Regions from separate parts of the Homo sapiens genome. Here region 1 is linked to region 2. The links come from fine-mapping of genetic effects on gene expression. A gene starts in region 2. The other region holds a variant in brackets. All regions are shown on one strand. Distances are from middle to middle.

Region 1 (2,902 bases), 850 kb after region 2:
AAGGGGAAGAGGGGGCCCTTCTCCTCCTGCAAGGTGAGTGGGGCACAGAGGGAACAGCTTTCGTCAGCCGAACCCCCTTGCTGCAACGTGGCTGGAAGCCAACCTTAGAGAAGGTGGCAGCGTCCTGCCTTCCGCCCAAAGTGAGTGCTGGCCTGGCTCCTGGGGTGAGGGAAAAATCCCATCTTGTGGGTGCTGCCCTCCATAGCTCCCTCTCACACAAACACGTTCAAAGTCTTCTCACATACTTAACATCAGAAAGGCAATCCAGAACCTCCCATTTGTGAGCAACAGCTATGTGCTGGGTTGGCTCCCCTCAGCACTGCTTTTATGTTATTTGCTTCCTTCCATCCTCAGGATGACTTGTTCTTATCTCCTCTTACAAATGAAGAAACTGAGGCTAGAAGTTGCCCGAGGCCACAGTGCTGCCCTGAGGCAGAGCTGGGGTTCCAACCAAGATGTGTTCCCTGTGCTCAAAAATGGGTCAGGAAATTTACAAATGGGTGTCTGTGGGCATGTGAGAAGCAGGTGAACTGGAGAACATCCAGGAAGTGCAACTGCTGAGGCCACAGACAGCTCAGGGCAGAAACACTCATTTTAGGCAGCTGTCACTTTCCAAAGGACTTTCTATGTGCTGTCTCATTTACTTTCCATAACAGTTCTATGAAGTGGGAGCTAACATCTCCATTTCGAAGGCAAGGAGGCAGAGATTGAATTGCTCCTCAAGGGCATCCAACTGCTCTGTCCTCTATGGCCTCCAGCCTCCAGTTCCCCATCTGTGCAATGGGAATATATTAAAATCACACCTTCAGATGATGTCAGGGTTAAATGAGGGAACATAACAGAAATGCTTTAGAAACTGCAAAATGCCACCGGAATTCTATGGAGTATTATTATTTACTAAAATAGCTTAGTGAAGACAACACAAATAAGTCTGAGAATTGCAAGGTTCTAGATTCAGACCTAGATTTCTGCAGAGTGTTTAAGCGGTGTTCTTTCCCGGACTGGAAGCTCCTGAAAGCAGGGACCACGTCTGGTTTGCCTCAGTTTCCTCAGCGCCCTGTTCCATGCCTGACACAGAGAGGGACCTTGAAAAAGCTAGGTGAAACTATTCAGGATTAATTCAGACTGGGAAAGAGGGTGGAGGGGAAGAACAATGGGATTGAGGGCTGGAAGTGGCCTTTTAGAGGTGGGTGACCAGAAGGTTGATGTTCCAACTCTTGAGAATGAAAACGCCTCTTTTAATAGTCTTGATAAAATGGAACTGTTCTGGGCCAGCAGGGACATACAGTCATACTACTTAAATATTTAGTACTTATTTAGTCTGATCCCCATGTTGTGGGGGAAACTGAGGCCCTCAGAGGATTGCAGAGC[TG/T]GGGGGGAAACCCAGGACTCCCTGCCCCTCCATAGGCCTGCTCTTGGAAGAGCCAGAGCAGCAGCTCGGAGTGGGTGGAGCTTGCTTTTAGTGCCTGCAGCTCTCTGGAAGGAACTGGGTGTTATCGAGATAATCCAAAGTTTCTGTTGGGTAAATATCAACACTTCTGGGCCCGTTACTAAGGGCCTGGGTGGTTGCTAAGCGGCCCTATGACCTCATGAGGGGGCCATTGTTTAGCACTCAATAGGCATCCTTGAGTGACATCCCCCAGCTCCCAAATCCCAGGGGCCCCTGGGGTTTTGTGAAAAGAAGCAAGAGATTATAATGAGCAGGAGCGGTACACAGACCCACGTTTGTTTTCTGGGGGTCTAGTGGGGCGGGGGTGGGGGCTGCAGCTTTTCAGAACAAGGCATAGGAAGGCATGAGGGCCCGGTGAGAGGCTGCCAGCTGCCATTGCTGGCAATAGAAATACCCCAGGAATAAAGAATTAACCCCATGTATGGCGCTTGACCCTTTGTAACCCACCTGAACACTCATCCTCTCACTTTGTTTTCAAAGCAGCCACACCATTTCACAGAAGAGAAAAAACTGGGTCCAAAAAGGGGAGACAGCTTGCCCAAGGCCTCTCAGAAATGTCTCAGTTTCCAGGTGTGGAAGGCAGAATAATGGCTGCACAAAGACACCCACATCCAAACCCCCAGAGCCTGTGAATATGTCAGCTTATGGCAAAGGGAAATGAGGGTGCAGATGGAGTGAAGGTGTCTCACCGCTGACTTTAAGACAGGGGAGATCACCCTGGATGATCTGGGTGGGCCAATGGAATACAAGGACCTTTAAAAGTGGAAAAGGGAGGCAGAAGATTCAGTGTCTGTGAATCAAGGAAATAGGCAGCCTCTAGAAGATGGAAAAGGCCCAGAGACAGATTCTTCTCCCCCGCAGCCTCCAGAAGGAATGTGGCTCTGCCTCGATTTCAGCCCGGTAGAGCTGTGTCAGACTTCTGACTACAGAACTGTCAGCTGATCAATTTTAAATCCCCTGGTCTATGGTTTTTTGTTACAGCAGCAATAGTAAGCTAATACACCACACTTAGAAATCTGCAATGCCTAAGCCAGAAGCAGGGCCTTGAAGATCACATTTAGCTTTTTGGAGTTCAGAAAACAGAAGGCCCAGGGGAATAAAATGATTTACTCAAGGTCCCAAAGCAAGTAACACAAACAGTGACAGGCACCTCTGGGTGTGGGTCAGACCTTGTTGAGGCTACTGAGGCCACCTGCCAGGGAGTTGGAACTTCTAGGCCCCTTCCCTGCCATTCTCTGCCAGCTGGCCTGATCAGGACCCCAGACCCCAAACCTATCCCCTCTGAACCTTTCTTGGGCACAGGCAGGTCAGAGGCCCATTATGTGACAGGCAGGAGGGTACTCTCCTCCTTTTCGCCCCTGCCAAGCACAGGCAGCCCAAAGCCTATGGCCTCAGTGCCTTTCTTTGAAAATGGGAATAGCACCTTCCACATCAAACGGCAAGGATAAAATG
Region 2 (2,902 bases):
GCTTTAGCCTTAGGGTTGCTAAGGAAGTTGCCTGGGAATTAGGAGCTGGAGGATCTTCATTTTTTTCAGATTTTTTGAGATGGAGTCTCACTGTTACCCAAGCTGGAGTGCAATGGCACAATCTTGGCTCACTGCAACCCCTGCCTCCTGGGTTCAAGCGATCCTCCTGCCTCAGTCTCCTGAGTAGCTACGTGAACGTGCCACCATCCCCAGCTAATTTTTGTATTTAGTAGAGATGGGGTTTCACCATGTTGGCCAGGCCAGTCTCAAACTCCTGAGCTCAAGTGATCTGCCTGCCTTGGCCTCCTAAAGTGCTGGGATTACAGGCATGAGCCACCGTACCTGACCAGGATCTTCATCTTTAACAAGTTCTGTAGGCAGCAGGGTCCTGGTACGGGTGACCTGCATCCCCTACCTTGAGCCCTGCCTATGGAGGAAGGACTGGCTTCTGAAGCTTTGGAGATAGCAATTGGTGTGCATGTGTGGTGGGTGAGAGCCTGGCTGACCACCACCCTCTTCTACAGTGTAACCTACAGTAGATTGCGTCATGAGAGTGTGTCCGCATCTGTAACGCCATGAAAGTCGTGAGGGTTAAAGGCATGGGCAGACAGCTTTGCACGGTGCTCAACAGCCACCATTTACTGTCATCATTGTGAATACCCAGAGGACAAATCATAAATACCAGTGAATGTTTACTGAGCACTTGCTGTGTGCTAAGTGTTTTCCTTGGGTTATCTCAGTAAAATTTTACAGCACCTAAAGTAGCTGCTGTTAAAGGCCTTTCTGACGGCCTTTCACGGTTGAGCCACAGAGATGTTGAGTAACTTGTCCAAGGTCACACAGCTACTAAGAGATGTACTTTTCCTATTCAGAGACCTAGGCAGGCTGGGAGTGGGAAAAGACAGAAACACTAAGGGAGTGGCTCAGTAAGAGGCAACAATTCCAGTGCCCACCAGGTGCCCCAAATGTTTCAGCATCATGGACAACTCTAGGGGGCTTGGGTTTCCACCCCAGAGACTTGCGCAGGGCAGACTCTACCAAGGTGTGGGTTGGAGTTGGGAGTCGGGGTGAGGTTCCCCGCTGGCTCCAGGCTGCTCCAATGGGGCGGGGGCCGCCCGCAGGGCCGGGCGGGGCTGTGCTGCCATCTGGAGCCGCTGCCGCCGGCGGCCACTGTCAGGGCGCGAGCGGCTGGAGCGCACGCAGGGCTGGAGCGAGTGCAGCCGCCGCCGCCGCCGACACCGCGGCACATGGGCCGGCCCCGCCGCTGCCGTCGCCCCTAGCCCCAGCAGCCCTGGTCTCGCAGCCTCCTGCGGCTCTGGTCGCCCGACCAGCCATGTCTCTCGGCGGAGCCTCCGAGCGCAGCGTCCCGGCCACCAAGATTGAAATTACCGTGTCCTGCCGGTGAGCGGGCCGCGCTGGGGAGGGCTTAGGCACTGGCACTGCCCCAGCCCCAGCCAGCCGCGGGGCTCAGCCTGGGCAGGGGCTAGACCCCCGGGGAGAGGCGAAATTGGCTGGAAAATCACAGCTGATGACAGGGCGAGTAGCTGGTGGGATCGAGAAGCGGGGGGTCTTGGGCAGCCCCACCCCGAAAAAAGGGCTCAGCCTGCGGGTTCAGGGGGTGGGTCGCAGATATCCGGTAGGAGCTCGGCCCCAGGAGGACAAAGTTCTGGGGCGAGCCCTCTTTCCTGGGCCCTTGGAGACAGTGTGGGTGCGTTCGCGTCCAGTCCGCAGAGCCATGGTTCCTGGACAGCGATTTCCGGTGCTGTCCAGAGTGCTGACAGAGCGGACCCCGGCTGGGGGTAGCCATGGGGGACAGAGGTTCGATGCGGGCCCCATGCCTCTCCTCAGTGCCCGGCTCAGAGCCGACTCGAGGCGGGCGGACTCCAGGATGATCCACTCTGTCTGTCTGTTGCTTTTCTCTAGGAACCTGCTAGACCTTGATACCTTCTCCAAGTCCGACCCCAGTAGGCGGCTCCAGGACCGGGAGGGGGAACTTGGGGTCTGGGCGCGACTCAGGGGCGGGTGGAGTCGGGGCCAGGGGTGGGAGCCGACCTGACGTCCTTCCCTCCCCGCCCCCACCTGCAGTGGTGGTGCTTTACACGCAGAGCCGGGCCAGCCAGGAGTGGCGGGAGGTGAGTCCCAGAGCCCCCTCCCGGCCCAGGGCGTCGCCCGGGAATTCCCCTGCCCGTCTGCACGTCCCACGCTGACCCTCCACCCCCCTACCCAGTTCGGACGGACCGAGGTGATTGATAACACGCTGAACCCAGACTTCGTGCGCAAATTCGTCCTCGACTATTTCTTTGAGGAAAAGCAAAATCTGCGCTTCGATGTGTGAGGCCCCGCCTGGAATTCTGGCTTGGCCCGCCCCCGACCTGGATCCGCCCGGAATTCTGGCTGGCCCCACCCCCGCCTCGCCTCCGGCCTGGTTCTTCTCGCAGGCCTCCCTCCCATTCTGAATGGCCCCCTCTAGCCTGAGCCCTGCCCTTTTATGAGATGCGGTCCAGTTCCGTCCCCCGCTCTGGCCCCGCCCACAACTCTGCTCCTATCGCAGCTCCACCTCAGGCCCGACCCCTTCCACACAACCCTGCCCCCAGCAGCCCCTGACTTGGCCTCGGCCCAGGCTTGACCGTCTGACTACTCAGCCCACCCTGACTCCTCCCCAAAAGGAGACCAAAGCTGAATTCGGGTCCACGGCCGCCCATCCCTCCACCCAAAATTTTCACCAAGACTCGGTGCCCGACCCCTTTCCACCCTCTCCCCCACCCAGCCCCACCCCACACCGGTTCCACTCTTTTCCCAGGTACAACGTGGACTCCAAAACCAACATCTCCAAACCGGTGAGCAAACGTTTCCTCGAGGGTTGGCGGAGCGCACAGGAGGCACTTAGATGTGTTCAACGACT

What was found. PIP is the estimated chance that this variant, and not a neighbour inherited with it, causes the effect.
Region 1: its variant is the best candidate, but not a certain one, in a credible set for the expression of CPNE9 in monocytes (TOPMed, PIP 0.65).

Annotation. Positions count from the first base shown.
Region 1 is chr3:10,552,270-10,555,171 of GRCh38, forward strand. It overlaps a transcript of ATP2B2 not described here. Among named protein-coding and RNA genes, the nearest start is that of ATP2B2-IT1, 17 kb to the right of the region's middle. RefSeq lists a silencer at 1,416-1,710. The variant TG/T (reference allele first, on the strand shown) is at 1,372.
Region 2 is chr3:9,702,664-9,705,565 of GRCh38, forward strand. CPNE9 (copine family member 9) reads left to right here and starts at 1,170. Exons shown (of 21, transcript NM_153635.3): 1 at 1,170-1,401; 2 at 1,924-1,964; 3 at 2,086-2,132; 4 at 2,228-2,331; 5 at 2,801-2,837. The coding sequence starts at 1,334. RefSeq lists an enhancer at 809-1,719.